2 separate regions of the Homo sapiens genome follow, and region 2 is linked to region 1. Evidence: fine-mapped expression QTL. Tissue or cell type: whole blood. Region 1 holds a variant in brackets; the other region holds the start of a gene. All regions are shown on one strand. Distances are from middle to middle.

Region 1 (10,278 bases):
AAGGGCCCCCCCGTCTATGTTCACATTCCACTCCCGTTCTTCCTCACCATGGTCTTTGGCAACTTTCCTAAGATACTTGGTTCATAATTTCAGAGACTGTTTGCAGGCAAAAATCTCCTCTGGGCTTTCTGTGTAAGGACCTACAGAACTGGACACCCATGCTGCCAGCACTATACCACAGGCCAGGCGGAGGGCAGGCCTCACCCAGGGATAGCTGTGGCCATGACAAGCCTCTCTCCCTTCCAGGCCTTGGCTTCCTCATCTGCACCTACCAGCAGGGCTGCTCACTGACCTCCGATGCCCCCGCCCTCCAGCCTCGGCCCTGGCACCAGCTTTTGCCTGACCTGTGGTATGCTCTCCTGGCCACTGCCTGTATCCTCAGGCTAGGTCCAGGAGGCTGACCCTCACTCTGCAGCCTTTGGAGCCGGGAGAGTTGCACAGGCTCTGAGGAGCCCAAACCCCCAACCCCCAACCACAGGAGCCCGTGTATCTGCTCAAGGCATGGCACCCTTGGCACCCCACCTCCACACAGCTGCTGAGTGCCAAGTCCTGCTGGTGCCACGGCCGCAGAGGAACTCTCCTGAGACTAATCAGACCCACATGGAACTACTGACCGGGAAAAGTGGTTCCTGAGCATGGGGGCATGCAGAGAGCACAGGGGCTCTGCCACCTGGAGTCACGAAGGCATGGGCAGGAAGAACGGCTCCGGACAGCAAGTGCCCCGCACCAGCCCTCGGCCTTCCACCTAGGGGACACTGCAACTCTCCCAGCCTCCATAGCAAGTGTGCAGACCCATGTGGGGCAGGGCTGGGCATGCCACACACAAGGGATGCTCAACGAACAGCAGGCCTGGAGCTCGGGAGCCAGGAGAGAGGCCCATGGACCTGCCCTTGTGGAAGGAGGCAGCTTCAGGGCCCGCCACAATGTGCCGACCACTTCCCGTTTGCCTGTCCTGGCAGAAGGCCCCGGACTAACAGCATTGGCCAAGTTCTGGGGCTTTGGAGGGGGAGGAGGGCAGGAGGGAGGAATGCTCACTTCACGGAAGGGCAAAACACCAAAACCTCCGCAGTTCCTGCGGCCTCATCTCCAACAGGAGCTTCCCTGGGAGCACAGCATCCCAGTCACTCCAAGCCAGGGCTGCGGAGGGCTGCTCTGCACAGCCTGCCCGTGGGAGGGAGGACACCCGGCCAGAGCCACTCTATGTGACTGTTCTTCACAGCCTCAGCTTTCTCCAGGGATCCGGCAGCCCTCATGCCATCACAGGAAGCCTTGGGCTTCACCCCCAAATACCCGAGTTGGTACATCTGTGACAGGCTCAGTCCTCAGAATGTTTGCCAAGTCACGAGGAGCAACGTCCCTGGAGAGGCTGCCACAGCCCCCAGTGGAACCCCACTTCCTGATGAGCCTGAGGCCTGCCCCCGAGGCAGTGCTGGGCAGAGCCGCCATCCCCCTCTGGCAGACCCACCTCAGGTCGGCTGCTATGAGGTTGAAGCCATTGTACAGATGGCCCTCCATAGAGACCTTCTTCAGGTAGGACAAGCTGTCCACGTCAGTGGTCAGAAAGTGGGTGACAAGTTCACCTGTAGGCAGGGGACAGATGCTGTGTCCACAGCTGCAGGCATGTGCTCTTCTCCCAGGAACACTGATATGGGGCCCCCTGGGGAGGATGCAGGAAGATGAGGGGTCCCACTGGAGCCCTGGCCTGTCATGACTGCCGCAAGAGTCAGCCACACCTCATTAGCCTGGCTGCCACTCAGGTCGGCACTGAAAACTGCTCATTTTATTAAAAAAAAAATTTCCCCACTATGTCTTCCTATGGAAATCCAGCATGAAGTAAACAACACCTTTCAGTGGGGACAATGTGTGTCCACAGAGCTGTCGTCTCGGGGAAGGCATCTACTCTACAAACATTCCAGGCAGGGGACAGTGACACAGCAGTCAGGAGTGCCATGCATGAGGACAAGGGGAGAGTGCGCCCTGAGAGGAGTAAACAGTGCTGCGTGGGTCAGGTGGGAGTGGGCTCCTGGCTGCGACGCCAGAGGGCCAGGGTGTGGGAAATGGGATGCTCCCCTCCTCACTCTTCCTGTCTCTGCCGCATACCCCTGCAGCACACCTCAGTGGCGGCAGTGATATGCCCACGGAAGCCACCCACCTGCCACGGGGCCCAGCTTCCCCCTTCTTGTCCCCACCCTTACCTGGGCCCTGCCCTGCCACGCTTTGTCACCGCCCACTCTGTAACCTGGCCCTGCCCCACGGTACCTCAGCCCTGCCCCATCCCACTCCCAAGCACAAGCACCTTGGCACTTCCTACCTTGGCCCGCCCCACTCCACCATACATTGGCCAGTCCTGTAGTCCCTTGGCCCCACCTTGTCTCACCTAGGCCTGCCCCACCCCACCCTGTCTCACCTTGGCCCCACCCCACTCGCCTTACCTCGCCCTCGGGCCTGCCAGTCCAGCTGCGGCTGCAGGTAGTTGGTGAGTGCTGCCAGCTTGCCACGTGTGCTGATGCCCAGCCATGTGCCTCCTTCCTTGCCTTCCTCCATGTCCAGCCCTGTGGCAGATGACAGTGTTACCACCATTGATGCCACCCATTCCAGTCCCCCACCTGGTTCCCAGCCCTGGGAGACGCATACTCGGCCCAGCTCCTGCCTCAAGCTCCTCGAGGACGTTCGACATGCGGCTTGGCCCAGCAGCCCCAGCTATGGAATCGTGGCTGGAACTCTTCAAGGCCAGGCAGCCCCTGGGGTTCATGGGTCGTGCAAGTGAGATCCCTGTCCTGCAGGACAACTATGACACCAACCACACCTATCCCAACAGATGCCCTGCAGAACACATCCTTCCACTTGGGCCAGCGTCAAGGCTGAGGGGCAGCACTAGGCTCCAATCGCATGAATGGGGTGCAGGGACGCTGGCTGTCCTCACCCAGCAGGATGCACCAGGCCCAAAGGGCAGGCCCTTCACTAGGAGCCCAGCACACAACCAGGACCTTCACCCCCGCCAAATCTGCAGGGCATGGGCCACTGCTAATGCCACAAGGTTGGAGGGCTCTGAAAGCCACAGGAGGGCTCCTTCTTAGACCAGGGGGTCATTTTACCCAAAGATTGGGGCAAAAAAGGCTGTCATTAAGATGTTATTTTTATTATTTTATTTCATTTTTTATTTTTTTGAGACAGAGTCTCACTCTGTCACCCAAGCTGGAGTTCAGTGGCAATCACACAGTTCACTGCAACCTCCACCTCCCAGGCTCAAGCGATCCTCCCACCTCAGCCCAAGTAGCTGGGACCACAGGCAGGTACCATCACACTCGGCTGATTTTTGCATTTTTTTGTACAGACAAAGTTTTGCTGTGTTGCCCAGGCTTGTCTCGAACTCCTGGGCTCAAGCGATCCTCCCGACTCAGCCTCCCAAAGTGCTGGGATTACAGGAGTGAGCCACTGCACTGGCTAGGATGTTATTTTATTTATTATTGTTATTATTACTTTTTGAGACAGAGTTTCGCTCTTGTTGCCCAGGCTGGAGTGCAATGGTGTGCTCTCGGCTCACTGCAACCTCTCCCTCCTGGGTTCAAGCGATTCTCCTGCCTCAGCCTCCTGAGTAGCTGGAATTACAGGCATGTGCCATCACACCTGGCTAATTTTGTATTTTTAGTAGAAACGGAGTTTCTCCATGTTGGCCAGGCTGGTCTCGAATTCCCAACCTCAGGTGATCCGTCCGCCTTGGCGTCCCAAAGTGCTGGGATTACAGGTGTGAGCCACCGTGCCTGGCCCTAAGATATTATTTTTATAACAATAATTAATTATAACAGAAAAAGAAAAGATGTAAAGATCAAAAATAAAGAAATAAAACTGTATTTGTGGCCCCGTGCGGTGACTCACACCTGTAATCCCAGCCCTTTGGGAGGCCGAGGCGGGCAGATCACCTGAGGTTGGGAGTTCAAGACCAGCCTGACCAACATGGAGAAACACCATTTCTATTAAAGATACAAAATTAGCCAGGCGTGGTGGTGCATGCCTGTAATCCCAACTACTTAGGAGGCTGAGGCAGCC[T/C]ATAATCCCAGCTACTCGGGGGGCTGAGGCAGGGGAATTGCTTGAACCCGGGAGGTGGAGGTTGCAGTGAGCCGAGATCACACCATTGCACTCTCAGCGAAACTCTGTCTCAAAAAAAAAAAAAAAACCCAACAAAACTGTATTTGCAACCAGCAGGATCATATATGAAGAAAACCCAAAAGGAATACCAAAACCGATGTATTAGAACTAATAAGTAAATGCTAGCAAGAACTGGAAAGTGAGCATTTAAATATACCATTTATAACAGCATTTTTAAAATCCTTAGTGTGATTAAAAAAAAAAAAAAAAGCCGGGTGCAGTGGCTCACGCCTGTAATCCCAGCACTTTGGGAGGCCAAGGCGGGCGGATCACGAGGTCAGGAGTTCGAGACCAGCCTGGCCAATATGATGAAACCCCATCTCTACTAAAAATACAAAAATTAGCTGGGCATGGTGGCAGGCACCTGTAGTTCCAGCTACTCGGGAGGCTGAGACAGGAGAATTGCTGGAACCCGGGAGGTGGAGGTTGCAATGAGCAGAGATGGCGCCATTGCACTCTAGCCTGGGCAACAGACCAAGACTCCGTCTCAAAAAAAAAAAAAAAAAAAAAAACCACCAGGAAAATATTTAATGAAAAATGAGTGACAAAGACTGAAAACTCCAGGGCACTGTTGAGGGTCTCAAGTTGAGCTGACCTGATTTAAGGAGAGACATGCATATTCACTGAAAGATTCAATAGTGTTTTTTTGTTTGTTTTTGTTTTTTAGAGTCTTGCTCTGTCGCCTAGGCTGGAGTGCAGTGGTGTGATCTCAGTTCACTGCAAGCTCCGCCTCCCGGGTTCAGGCCATTCTCCTGCCTCAGCCTCCCAAGTAGCTGGGACTACAGGTGCCCACCACCACACCTAGCTAATTTTTTCATATTTTTTTAGTAGAGACAGGGTTTCACCGTGTTAGCCAAGATGGTCTCGGTCTCCTGATCTCATGATCGGCCCGCCTCGGCCTTCCAAAGTGCTGGAATTACAGGCGTGAGCCACCGTGCCCAGCCTCAACAGTGTTTCTTCTTGTTATTATTTGTTTCACTGGGTACTTCTTAGACAACTCAGTATTGTTAAGGTGACACTTCTCCCCACATGACCCATAGATTCAAAACCTGCCCAGTCAAAATCCCAGGGGGCTTTTCGTTTTATAGCAATTAACAGACTGGCTGAAATATCTATGCATATGCAAAGGAACTGGGATGGCCAAAATAGTCCCGAAAAAGAAGGCAGACCCACATTGCCTGATTTCTTTTTTCTTTTTTTTTTTTTTTTTGAGACAGAGTTTCGCTCTTGTTACCCAGGCTGGAGTGCAATGGCGTGATCTCAGCTCACCGCAACCTCCGCCTCCCGGGTTCAAGTGATTCTCCTGCCTCAGCCTCCCGAGTAGCTGGGATTACAGGCATGGACCACCACACCCAGCTAATTTTGTATTTTTAGTAGAGACGGGGTTTCTCCATGTTGGTCAGGCTGGTCTTGAACTCCCAACCTCAGGTGATCTGCCCACCTCGGTCTCCCAAAGTGCTGGGATTACAGGTGTGAGCCACAGTGCTCAGCCTGATTTCAAGACTTACTAAAAAGCAGCAGCACTCATAGACTGCATGGTGTTGGCATCAAGACAGATACATAGATCAATGGGATACAACAGAGTCAGGAATAGACCCACACATATATGTTCAACTGATGTACAACCAAGTTGCCATAGTAATGAACTAGGCAAAAGATAATCCATTTAATAAATGATGCTGGAACAACTAGAGAGATTTGGGGGTTGGAGGCAGTAAATCTCAACCCCTACCTCACACCATGTACAAAACCTTGAGATAAATCATAGACCAAACATAAAAACAAAAATTAGGCTTCTAGAAGCAAATGGAGGAAAATATTGTTATATATTTTCCTCTGGGTAGGCAAAGACTTTTTGGATAAGGCACAAAAAGAACAACTCATAAAAGATAAGATAAACTGTACTTTGTTAAAATGAAATATTCTGGCCGGGCGCAGTGGCTCACGCCTGTAATCCTACCACTTTGGGAGGCCAAGGCAGGCAGATCAAGAGGTCAAGAGATTGAGCCCATCCTGGCCAACATGGTGAAACCCCATCTCTACTAAAAATACAAAAATTAGCTGGGCATGGTGGTGCATGCTTGTAGTCCCAGCTACTCAGGAGGCTGAGGCAGAAGAATCACTTGAACCTGGGAGGCGGAGGTTGCAGTGAGCTGAGATCGCACCACTGTACTCCAGCCTGGCAACAGAGTAAGACTCCACCCACTCAAAAGAAAAAAAAAAAATTCTGCTCACCATAAGCTATCATTAAGGAAATGAGTAGGCACAAAGGACTCATATCCAGAATGGGTAAATAACTCTTACAAATCAATAATTAAAACAAGAACAAAACTTCCAAATTGCCCAAGCAACAAGGACCAGATTTACCCTCCTGCATAAAACAACCAAAAAATAAATAAATAAATAAAACTCAAGAAACAATGGTGTATTTATTAGTCCATTCTCATGCTGCTACAAGGACATACCCGAGACTGGGTAATTTATAAAGGAAAGATATGTGACTCATAGTTCAGCATGGCTGGGGAGGCCTCAGGAAACTTACAATCATGGCAGAAGGGGAAGCAAACATGTCCTTCTTCACATGGTGGCAGGAAGGAGAAGTTCCAAGCAAAGCAGGAAAAGCCCCTTATAAAACCATCAGATCTTGGCTGGGAGCGGCAGCTCATGCCTGTAATGTCAGCACTTCGGAAGGCCGAGGCAGGCGGATCACCTGAGGTCAGGAGTTCGAGACCAGCCTGGCCAACATGGTGAAACCCCATCTCTACTAAAAATACAAAAATTAGCTGGGCGTGGTGGCAAGCGGCTGTAATTCCAGCTACTCAGGAGGCTGAGGCAGGAGAATTGCTTGAACCTGGGAGGTGGAGGTTGCAGTGAGCCGAGATCGCACCATTGCACTCCAGCCTGGGTAACAAGAGCGAAACTCAGTCTCAAAAAAAAAAAAACAAAACACTATCAGATCTCATGAGAACTCACTATCATGAGAATAGCAGCATGGGGGTAATGCCCCATGATTCAATTACCTCCCACTGGGTCTCTCCCAGGACATGTGGGGATTTGGGGAACTATAATTCAAGATGAGATTTGGGTGGAGACACAGCCAAACCATATCAAATGGGTTTTACAAAAAAGGATATGACAGACAGGAAACAAAGTGAGCCCATGATTAGAGAGGCTCCAGGACCCAGCCCAGGGAGTGGGGGGACCAGGCCGAATTCAGCAGACTCCCTGAGCTGAGAAGAGGGGCTTAGTGTTTGGGGAAACTAAGACAACCAGAGTTCATGGCTGCCATAGTTTGGATGTTTGTCCCCCAGACCTCATGTTAAAATCTGATCCCCGGGCTGGGTGAGGTGGCTCACGCCTCTAATCTCAGCATTTTGGGAGGCTGAGGCGGGTGGATTGCCTGAGGTCAAGAGTTCGAGACCAGCCTGACCAACATGGTGAAACCCCGTCTCTACTAAAAACACAAAAAATTAGCTGGGCATGGTGGCAGGCGCCTGTAATCCCAGCTACTCAGGAGGCTGAGGCAGGAGAATTGCTTGAACCTTGGAGGCGGAGCTTGTGGTGAGCCGAGATCGTGCCATTGCACTCCAGCCTGGGCAACAAGAGTGAAACTCTGTCTCAAAAAAAAAAAAAAAAAACAAACAAACCAAAAAACTGATCCCCAGTGTTGGAGGTGGGGTCTAATGGGAGACAGATCTACCTAATGGCAGATCCTTCATGAACGGCTTGGTGTTGTCCTCACAGTGATGAGTTCTAGCTCTATTAGTTCCTTTGAGAACTGGTTGTTTAAAAGAGCGTGGCGCCTCCTCCCTCTCTCTGGCTTCCTCCCTCCGTGTGTGATCTGCACATACCACCTCCCCTTCCCCTTCCACCATCAGTAGAAGCTTCCTGAGGCCTGCATCAGAAGCAGATGCTGACACTGTGCTTCAGGTCCCCTGTAGAACTCTAAGCCAAATAAACCTCTTTTCTTTATAAATTACCCAGCCTTGTGGATCACTTGAGGTCAGGAGTTTGAGACCAGCCCAGCCAACCTGGTGAAACCCCATCTCTACTAAAAATACAAAAATTGGGCTGGGGGAAGGATAGCGTTAGGAGAAATACCCAATGTAAATGATGAGTTGATGGGTGCAGCAAACCAACATGGCACATGTATGTATACCTATGTAACAAACCTGCACGTTCTGCACATGTACCCTAGAACTTAAAGAATAATAATAAAAAAATACAAAAATACAAAAATTAGCAGGGTGTGGTGGCAGGTGCCTGTAATCCCAGCTACTCAGGAGGCTGAGGCAGGAGAATCACTTGAACCTGGGAGGTGGAGGTTGCAGTGAGCCAAGGTCGCACCATTGCACTCCAGCCTAAGCGACAGAGCAAGACTCTGTCTCAAAAAAAAAAAAAAAAAAAAAATTACCCAGCCTTGGCTGGGCACCATGGCTTATTATCTGTAATCCCAGCACTTTCGGAGGCCAAGAAAGGAGGGTCACTTCAGGCCAGGACTTTGAAACCAGCTTGTGCAACACAGCAAGGCTTTGTCGCTACAAATTATTTTTAAAAATTAGCTGGGCATGGTGATGTGCACTTGTAGTCCCAGCTACTAGGGAGGCTGAGGTGGGAGGATCACTTGAGGCCAGGAGTTAGAGGCTGCAGTGAGACAGGATTGTGCCACTGCACTCCAGCCTGGGCAACAGAGTGAGACCCTATCTCAAAAAAAAAGAAAAAAATTACCCAGACTCAGCTTTTTCCTTTAGAGCAACACAAACGAACTAAGACAGTGGCACAAAAGTCCAGAGAGGAAGGAGCTACACAGAGAATGTCTGATCAGCATCTCAGGGAGGAGACTATATGACACTGGGGCAAGAACCACCAGTGCTCACACAGGGCAGGGAGTAGGGCTGGCTCCCAGACACCAGGCTGGAAAACCTCAAGATCTAGGGGCACCGAGAAAAGTACGCAGAGAGCATCGCAGAGGTGTGGGACAAGGGCAAGTGAACTAATATATGTGTGTAACTGGAGAGAAGGAGAGAGTGAGAGAGAAGACAGAAAAACTACTTGAAAAAGTAATGGCCGCTGGGTGCAATGGCTCATGCTTCTAATCCCAGCACTTTGGGAGGACAAGGCGGGCGGATCACCTGAGGTCGGGAGTTCAAGGCCAGCCTGACCAACATGGAGAAACCCCATCTCTACTAAAAATACAAAATTAGCCTGGTGTGGTGGTGCATGCCTGTAATCCCAGCTATTAGGAAGGCTGAAGCAGGAGAACAGCTTGAACCCGGGAGATGGAGGTTGCGGTGAGCTGAGATGGCACCATTGCACTCCAGCCTGGGCAACAAGAGCAAAATTCCATCTCAAAAAAAAAAAAAAAAAAAAAGAAGTGATGGCCAAATTTTTATGAATTTAATGATTTTGATTTGCATTTCTTTTCTTTTTTTTCAGACAGGGTCTCACTCTGTTGCCTAGGCTAACTGCAGTGGCTCAGTCTCGGTTCACTGCAGCTTCTACCTTCCAGGCTCAGGCGATCCTCCCACCTCAGCCTCCTGAGTAACTGGGACAACAGGCATATGCCACCACAGCTGGCTAATTTTTTTTTTTTTTTTTGTAAAGACAGGGACTCACTACGTTGCCCAGGCCGGTCTCAAGCTCCTGGCCTCAAGGGATCCTCCTGCCTTGGACTCCCAAAGTGCTGAGATTACAGGTGTGAGCCACCGGCCCAGGGTGATTTCATTTCTAACAAGTTCTCAAGTAAAGCTGGTGCTACAGGCCCAAGGACCACACCTGGAGAACCACTGTCCTAAACTTTTGCATACAATCCGGTGACGCCAGAGAGTGAGAGGATGTGGGCCTTAGTGATATGGTCACCCCGACACTTGGCAGAAGCCCGTGTACATCCATGCACCAGCTGCCACCATCAAAACACCACAGGGGTGAACAATTCCACAAGACTGGAGCTGCTGGGGTTGGCACTAGTTCAGAGGCAGCTGACAGACCTGGGTGCCAGGGTGGGATGGAGCCCAGGAGGGCACAATAGTCAAGGAACCAGAAGAGGGTAACCCTCTGAGCCGCCACATCTTCATCTATGAAAACCTTCCACCTTCCAAGGACATCAGTCTTGTGCCTTCACCCACCCGTCCT
Region 2 (8,922 bases), 29 kb after region 1:
TAAAAACACAAAAATTAGCAGGGCGTGGTGATGCACGCCTGTAATCCCAGCTACTCAGGAGGCTGAGGCAGGAGAATCGCATTGAACCTGAGAGGCAGAGGTTGCAGTGGCACGATCTCAGGTCACTGCAACCTCTGCCTCCGGTATTCAAGCGATTCTCCTGCCTCAGCCTTTTGAGGTGACAAAGCAAGACTCTGTCTCAAAACGCAAAAAAAAAGAAAATGTACAGATCCTGCCCTCCTTCCCTGCCAGGGCTGGGACATTTCTATGGGCAGGGAAGAGAGGGAAGGAAGGGCAAGAACCCAAGAGTCACTTGTTCACAGAAAGCAAGAGAAGACCCAATCAGCCCTGGTGCAAGACAGCTCTGCATAGGACGGGGTGTAGCTGGGCTGTCGCAGCAACACCACACCTGGAGACCCTGGGGGCCAGAGGGGATGGGACACACGCTTTTGGCGGAACCACTTCCCTTTGGCAAGCGAAAAGGCAAGCATAGCACATGGGCAGAGGGGATGTGTGCTAAGCAGAAAGCAGTGGTGACAGAGGAATGGCAAGCTATTAGTACCACAGGGTCAAGGGGACCTAGACACTTGGGAGGGTAGCCATCAAGTCGGGCTCCTATTGGGGCTGCACATGGTGAGTCCCTGAACAGAGGGTGACTAAGCCCTACAGTCTGCTGCCCCCATTTAATGGCCTCAATGGCCACAAGGGCTGGTGCTGCAGGGCTGAGCAGCCGGGCGCCCAATCCCCATCCCTTGTAATCCCCACTCCATCAGCGGTGGCAGCCCCCAGGGGCAGAGCTTGAAAGCACGAGTTGCTCTTTTCAAAGGCAGACACAGACATGTGACGCGGGCTCCCGGTGGCTGTCAGCAGAGGAGGTAAACACACGTGGGAACACAGTGTCGCTGTTCACGGGGCCTGGGCGAAGAAAGTCCTGACGTCAGGAAACCCTCTGAGTCTCCAGTCCACTGCAATGCCCTGCTCCCTCCTATCTCCGCAGCAAGAGCTCACCAGTTTACACTCTCTGGCTATTAAATGGCATTTTTTATTTTTATTTTTAGATGGAGTTTTGCTCTTGTCGCCCAGGCTGGAGTGCAATGGTCCTGTTGGGTGGGCTGGGGGCAGCTGGAGAGGGTGACCTCTCTCACTGCAACGTTCGCCTCCTGGGTTCAAGCAATTCTCCTGCCTCAGCCTTTCGAGTAGTTGGGATTACAGGCACCTGCCACCATGCCCAGCAAATTTTTGTATTTTGTTTTTAGTAGGGACGGGGTTTCACTATGTTGGCCAGGCTGATCTCGAACTCCTGACCTCAGGTGATCCACCTGTCTCGGCCTCCCAAAGTGCTGGGATTATAGGTGTGAGCCACCGTGCCGGGCCTAAATGGCATTTTATTATGACACATTTTCTTTTTTTTTTTTTGAGATGGAGTTTCGCTCTGTTGCCCAGGCTGGAGTGCAGTGGCACGATCCCGGCTCACTGCAAGCTCTGCCTCCTGGGTTCACGCCATTCTCCTGCCTCAGCCTCCCGAGTAGCTGGGACTACAGGTGCCTGCCACCACCACGTCCGGCTAATTTTTTTGTATTTTTAGTAGAGACGGGGTTTCACCGTGTTAGCCAGGATGGTCTCGATCTCCTGGCCTCGTGATCCACCCGCCTCGGCCTCCCAAACTGCTGGGATTACAGGCGTGAGCCACCGTGCTTGGCCTATCATGACACATTTTCTACAGTGGTACTCTCTCCTCAGATCTTCACAATGCTTCCGGGGCATTTCTTCAGCCTCACACCAGAGGATCACTGTCTCTTCCCAGTTCCAAGGAATAGCACAAACAAGAGGCATCGTGAGCAGACAGCAAGCTCTGGACACAGGGTGGCCCCATCCTCAGGCCCTCCTGGGAGGAACACTCAGCTTCCTCACAAGCCAGGGACAGGCCAGCCTCGCAGCGGCCCCTGCGGCCTGAGTGGTTAGTAAAAACAAAAAAAAAGGGGGGCACTCCTACCATGCCCGCAAAGAGGATGAAGGCAAGCACTTCAAGTTTCAAGTTAGCATGGCACTGAAGATCTCAATGGATGTACCCCCAAATGTCAGCAAGTGCACCAGGGGAGCAGCCGCTGGGAGAAGGAGGCCAGCCTTTTTTATCTTTAAGCATGCATAAACTATTTTTGCAGTCTAAAAGGGAAGTTGAGAGAAAAAGGGGAAAAAGCTGTGATAACCTCAAAAAGCAGCTCAGTCTTTCTGGGGTGACCTTGTTTTCACGGAGCCCATCCTCATGGTAGGGATAGGCTTGTTTTCAAGACAGCCCAAGCCCTATGGTAGGGGCCAACAAAGGCCAGGCTCTGCCATGCTGCTGCCATGTGCTGACTGACACGTCACCAAAGGATGGGCCCTGCTTCTCATGCATCTGGAGTGTCAATGACAAGCATGGCCCTACTTCGAGAAGTCTTCCCAGCCTCCCTATCCCGGGCCATTTCTCTCCAGACCCCTTCTGGGGTCCCTGAGAAGCCCCTCATATCCCTGTGGGTGTTTTCAGAAGCAGCACCCTTGGGTGGGCACCGGGGTGCCCTCCAAGTTCGCCGTCTGGCGCAGAAGCCGGGCACAGGATCAAGTTCCCAGGACACTGCACGTGATTCCACACACTGCAAAACGTAATCAGAATGACAGCCCACAAGTGAAGACCAAGGAAGCACAAGAGGCTGGGCAGCCCAGGAAGAGCTGACAGCTGGTCACCTTAGCTCAGGGAAGGGCTATGGCCACCACACATCACAGCAGGCAGGGGCTTGGTCTGAGGGGCCTGCAGTCTGAGGACATGCAAGTAACACAAAGCTGTGTAGGGGTCAAAGGGGGTGGGGGCACCAGGGCACCCTACCCTGGACCACCAGAGCACTAGGATCCTGTGGGAACAGAGGCTCTGCTGTGTCCATCTAACAACATGGTCACCCTCTCCAGCTGCTCCCAGCCCACCCAACACAGACGCAGGACACAGACACAGGGACACTCCTAAGAGAGTGGCCCAGGAGTAGTAGAGGCACTGGGAGCAGGCCCTGGCTCTGAATGACCTTGGGAACACGATCTGCCACCTTAGCCTGAGTTTTCCTTGTATGAGCAGGACTGGATCAATGAATGCTTGCCCCAAAAGGCTGCCCAGAGGCAAATGAGCTAGCGTGAGAAAGCCTTCCAAAGAGCTACTCAGCTACCCCCTTATAGCTGCCGTCACATCTGCCTCATGGAAGAGGGCACTGTGCCCAGAGTGGCAGCAAAACAGTGGTCAGCAGGTCTAGAGCCACACGACAGTGCAAACAGGCCTGGCCAGGGCAGGGCATGTGACATTCCTGAAGAGGAAGGGGGCCTGAGGCCCAGGGACTTGTCCAAGGGCAGACGGTTCACTCTAAAGCTTGTGGTCCAGCAGGAAGCCAAGGGAGCACAGGAGAGGTGCTAGGGGCAGGGAAGGTGGGGGTCTCAGCAAACAGCCCTCTGTGCCCACTTCCTAGAGGAAAACGGGCAAAGCCCAGGCTGCTACAAAGCCCAGCGGTGGGGCAAGGACTGCCCTGAGTGCAGCCCTGCCAGCCCCTACCTCTGACGCTCTGGAGTTGGGGGTGGGGGATCTAACTACCCAAACCTCCCCAGGAAGGCCGCATCCAGGCGCAGGGATGACCCAGCACTTACTATCTACTCACACCCACATTAGCTGTCACCCTGCTGGCCCGCAGCAGGCCGCGGGTAGGGGGCAGAGTGACCGGGCGCCAGAGCTGTCCCTGATGCTGGCCAAGGCCGAGCAGCCCACACACCCTGCAGGGACCACGCAGCTCCCAACCCTGCCGATCTCAGCCTCCCCGCAGCGAGTCTGGTCCCACCTGCCAGAGTCCCTCGCATCCCGTGCCAGCGGGGATTATCAAAAACACCTTCCAGTAACGCGCGGGGCATTTTCGTCGGCCGGGATCGACGTGGTTGCCCCTGACCCAGCCGCCTGATTCTATACCATACCTCAGAAAGGGGAAACTGAGGCAGGGTGAGGAAGTGCGGCCAGCCCACCCACCTTCAAGCAGCCTGGCCCGGTCCGCGCACCCAGAGCCCAGAGCCCGGAGCCCCCGAGCCCAGGCCGGCCGGGCCACTAGCGGAGTCGGCCAGCCCCGGAGCCGCGCACTCACCGCCTCCGCCACCGCCGCCGACTTCCGGGTGCCGCGCCCGCGCGCCACCGCAGCCAGCCCAGTACCGCCCAGCCCGAAGCCGGCGCGTTCACCATTGGGCCGCGCAGCGAGGGGCGGGGCGGCGCGCCGCATGCCGGCGTCCCGTTGGCTGGGCGCGCTGTCGCTCGGAGGCTGCCACCTCCTGGCGCCCCGCCCCCGGGGCTGCGCCAAAGCTTCGGGCTGCGCGGGCGTCTGAGCGCTTCCTGATCCAGCGGCCTTCGGGGACTCCGCGGCTCCCTGCCTGCAGGGACGCCATGGGAGGTCGCAGCCGCCCCTGAGTCCATGCCCTCATGGACACCATCTGTCACCTGCTCACCCTGCGGCCTCTCTCGGAAGAGGTACAGGAATGCTCACTTCCGGACTGGCCCCCTCAGACTGCGTCCTGGTCTCCCCATCCTGTTCACTCAACCCCACCTCTGGACCTGGCCATCTTCCTCTTGGTCATCCCTTCCTTCACTTTATGGCCTCCAGGTCGGCTCTTTCCTCCCTGATGTCCCTGCCATTCCCAGTATGTACCCCCAGACCCTGGACTAGGCATTTGAGCACTATACCCTGCACACCCACCACCTCCCCCACTTCCACCCCCCAGTGTAGCCTTTGAGCTCACATCCAGGTCCAGGCCCCAGCGACGAGGGGCTGGCCCAGCTTGACTTGTGCAGGGTGAGCAGGTGGGCACTGACTGGGGCCCTCCCAACAGGACAGAGGCATTAGCTGGGACCGCTGCTCCTGTAGCCTCTGGGCTGTGCCTGGGCCTATGTGGCAGAAAGGTGGAGAGTCAAAGCCCAGAGGCTCAGGCCCTGCCTCAAAGTGAGCATTCAAAAAACTATGACATGGATGACAAAGACATTAGGGATAATGATAATGTGTAAAGCACTCTAAACCCAATGTCTGGGTCAGCAGTTCTTTCATCCCACTTTATAGATGTAAACACTGAGACTTGGAGCAGTTATGTCATTCAGTTGAAGTTGAAAAAGGTGGCAAGCAAGAGAGGCCACATTAGCTTCAACCTGTGTTGAAGACCTAGGTGCCCTGATGCCCTGCAGAAAACTGGGGCTCAGGGATGGGAAGAGCCTGGCTGGTAATCAGCAACGGCAAGAGTCTAACCTGGACCTACATGCGGGCCCGTTGTGCTCCACACTTTTGCTATCTTATCTGTGTTTCCCCTGGAACCCAACAGAACCTTTTACAAGGACTCCAGATGCCCAGGGACTCATGGCCAGCGGGCCGCAGACCCAGCCAGACATGGTTGTCTCTCCCACCATCCAGCAGTGGGATCATGTGGGGCTGGTACCAGTGATTTCCCTCTGAGCAGCCAAACCTATGCAATCTATAGGGCCAAGAGGTGGTGGTGGTGGACAAGTGGGATCTGGGGCTTGGGGGTGATGGACTGTGCCCTGGGGTTCATGGCAGCACCTGGAGAATGGGCTTCCCCAAAGCACCAGGCCATGCACCTCAAAGCTGGACATGAGTTGACCAAGGTTTCCCTTTGCCCACAAAGAGGGATGCAGTAACATGTCAGATGGTGGTTTGCATCCTGTTCTGTCATACCTTGTGGCCTTGGGCCATCCCCACCCCCAGCCATACTTTTCCCAGCTAGACAGAGCCAGAGCAGACACTCTGATCTTCTTTGTCACCACTGACACTCCAGTCTGGATGACATGCGATGCCAGGAAGCAGGTGACGGCAGATGAAATGGGTCTAGGATGGGCACCTAAGCCCTGGGATCTTGGGGCTGCAACAGGCTCACTGGCATCCAACCTCTAATTGCACACAAACTCAGATAGGAAGCTCACTACCTTCTGTGGCCACTCTTTTGATTTCAACAGCTGCCACTCTTGAAAAGTTCTTGACACCCAGCTGAAAGCATTTTCTCTCTGTGGCTTTCTCCGGGGGCCTCACAGCTGTCCGCATGGAGCTAGGTGAGAGGATGAGAGAGGGAGAACACTGGGCTACTGGTCCCTGTGGTCTCCCTTGCTGTGTTTTTCTTATCTTTTTCTTTTTTCCTTTTTTTTGAGATGGAGTCTCGCTCTGTCTCCTAGGCTGCCGTGCGGTGGTGCAATTTCAGCTCACTGCAACCTCCGCCTCCCAGGTTCAAGCGATCTCCTGCCTCAGCCTCCCAAGTAGCTGGGACTATGGGCGTCTACCACCATGCCCCGCTACTTTTTTTTGTATTCTTTTAGTAGAGATGGGGTTTTGCTATGTTGGCCAGGCTGGTCTCGAACTCCTGACCTCTGGTGATTTGCCTGCCTTGGCCTCCCAAAGTGCTGGGATTACAGGCATGAGCCACTGCGCCCAGCCTCCCTTGTTGTGTTTCTGACCCCTGGCTGCAGCCTAATGGGCCGACTGCTGGACAGCGGTCCTGAGTCCTGTTTGAATTGGTGCTGCCCCGACATCCTCTGACCTCAGCTAATGATCCTGCCTGCCGAGGGCAGACAGGTCTCTGCAACCCTATGGGTGGTAGGGGTGGTGATGAGAGGAGAGGTAGTCTCACTTGCACAGATTTTGGTGTATGGTTCTGTCTTTTGCACTCTTTCAACAGAGGTCTGTCCAGTCCCTCTTGCAAGTGTGGGGAGGGGGTGGTGCAGGACTATGAGGTAACTGTGAGAAGAGGGGCTCCAGCAGAACCAGGGTCCAATGGCCTTGAAGAGATGGCTGGGGACAGCTGGACTCATTACGTCTACTCCTAAATGGAGGAAACGACCCCTCAGCTACACAGCACCTGAGCCAGAATGTCACCATGGTGCTGCTCCACAGGATGACAGCTACCTGGTTTGTGAGGGCCCCTATTCTAGGGACAGCTACTTCATTCTGCCCTCCCAGAGCAGCAAGCAACAACCCTATGCCAGGAGGCCAATTGGCACGTCAAGTGCCAGCTCCAATCGATTGATAGTAGCTGCCTGGCTCTGAAAGGCAGCTGGGATCGATTCACCATGCTGCCAGCACACAGATGGACCCAGCGGTGGTCCCAGCAGTGAGTTCTTGCCTTGGGCCATTTCATTTTCTTTGTCCTGGCCAAGGAATGATTGGATGAACACACTGGACTCCCAATATGGGTGGATAAGACAAGAGTGTCTGGTCACACCCCTCCACCACTCATAAGCATGGTTGTGGGCAGTTTGGTTCCCCAGGCGGCCTTGGAGAATGCAATGAGCCGAGGAACTGGTCATCTCCAGGTGCATCCAGGGCAGGAAAGGATGACAGCATGCGTGAGCCAGGGTCACTGGCTAAGAAGTCATCTCAGGACCTCCCCCTAGAAAAGCCCACTGGGCAGCATCCCTGCTGGTTCCCCCCTACACCACAAGGTTACGCAGAGCTGGCGGAGGGTCATGGTCCCACTCATGTCAGGTGCTCTTAATCTGGCAAGGAAATGTAACCTACGTGAATCTCAACAGGCAGTGAAGCACCGTTTCTTCCTGACTCCAGGTAGGGTGAAGAAAATGGGACAGTAGTACGGGGTGCGGGCATAAACGCACAACTCTGCCTCCCCAGACGCAGAGCTGTGGGGCTGTGAGAATGCCAGGAGGAGGTAAGAAAGGGCGGCCCCATGGGGGGCCTGCAGGGTGGGACAAGCCCAAGAGGTCTCTACATCCAGGCCTGGTGGGGGAGGTGAGCCCCTGGTTTACCGAGGGGGTCCCTTCCTGCCCTCGGAAATACTGCAGCTCCTACCTCCATCGTCTCCCCGCTGCGGGGACCCAGGGGCGTGAGGATGAGAGAGCCCCCAGGCCCCAGGGTCAGACGACTGTGTTCAAGCAAGTGAGAACCTCTCTGAGGCTGTTTCCCAACTGTAAAATGGGGATAGCAGCAGAACTCTCTCTCGCGGCTTGCGTGAAGAATACAATTCGATGTCGACAGGAGGGAGCGGCGCGCAGCGCGCAGCGAGTAGCAGGCGCTGAAGAAGGATACCTGTGAACTGGGAGTGGTGGCGGAGGCTACGCGGCCAGAGTCCGGGGAAGGGGCGCCGGCTCTGCCAGTCCCTGCTCGGGGCTGGATGGTCGGGGGATGTTCTCGTAAGTCGGCTGGGAGGGAGCGGTCCCGCGTACCCTGCCACCGCCGCCGCAGAGGTTCGGGCAGGTGCGGGGCCGCGGCCCCTCCGCGAGGGGGCCGGTCATCCGCCGGGACTGACATCCCGGAGGCCCAATGGCAAGCCGTCATCTCCGCGCATCCGCCCAATCGGCGCCGGTTGCCGTGCCGCGCCGGGTCTCTCGACCAATGGGAAAATTTGCTGTCAGATGGGGCGGGGCGGAGATTCGCGTCGCCGGCCCGGTCCGCTTTGCGCACGGGCCGCGTGAGGGCGGGAGGGCTGGCCCGGGGTCTCGGGTTGCGCGCTGGGCCTGGAGGGAGGGGGCGGCCCCCGCACCGGTCCGAGTTGCGGCCGCGTGGACTGCGACCCGCGCCGCGCCGCACCGCGCCGCGCCCTGGGAACGCCGCTCCCCGCGCGCCAACGGACCCGGGGAAGCCCTTCTGGGGTCCGAGGCCGCGCTGCGGGGCCGCCCACGCTGCGCTCCAGGTAAGCCTGAGCCAGTGGGCGGGGTGTGGGACCCGGGGCTGGGGCCTCGGGTCGGAGCCGGGACTGGGGGCGGGGCTGCAGATATGGGACGCATTCCGGGCAGCGGTCCGGACAGGGTCCTATCCCTGGAGTCGAGATCCGGGCGAGGGTCTGGGCCGGACGTCGGAGCCAATCTCCGCCCCACCCGCGTCTTGTCCGCGCGCTCTGCGGCGTCCGAGACCCCGGGCCGGCGGGGGC

Evidence for each region. PIP is the estimated chance that this variant, and not a neighbour inherited with it, causes the effect.
Region 2: it holds the start of TANGO2, and the variant in region 1 is fine-mapped to the expression of TANGO2 in whole blood (TOPMed, PIP 0.99).

Annotation. Positions count from the first base shown.
Region 1 is chr22:20,044,739-20,055,016 of GRCh38, reverse strand. TANGO2 (transport and golgi organization 2 homolog) reads right to left here. Exons shown (of 9, transcript NM_152906.7): 4 at 2,433-2,552; 5 at 1,466-1,580. Among named protein-coding and RNA genes, the nearest start is that of MIR185, 17 kb to the right of the region's middle. The variant T/C (reference allele first, on the strand shown) is at 4,048.
Region 2 is chr22:20,016,352-20,025,273 of GRCh38, reverse strand. It overlaps TANGO2 (transport and golgi organization 2 homolog), which reads right to left and starts at 4,164. Exons shown (of 9, transcript NM_152906.7): 1 at 4,028-4,164. It overlaps ARVCF (ARVCF delta catenin family member), which reads left to right and starts at 8,451. Exons shown (of 20, transcript NM_001670.3): 1 at 8,451-8,685. RefSeq lists enhancers at 1,904-2,043, 3,362-3,411 and silencers at 4,012-4,401, 8,160-8,559.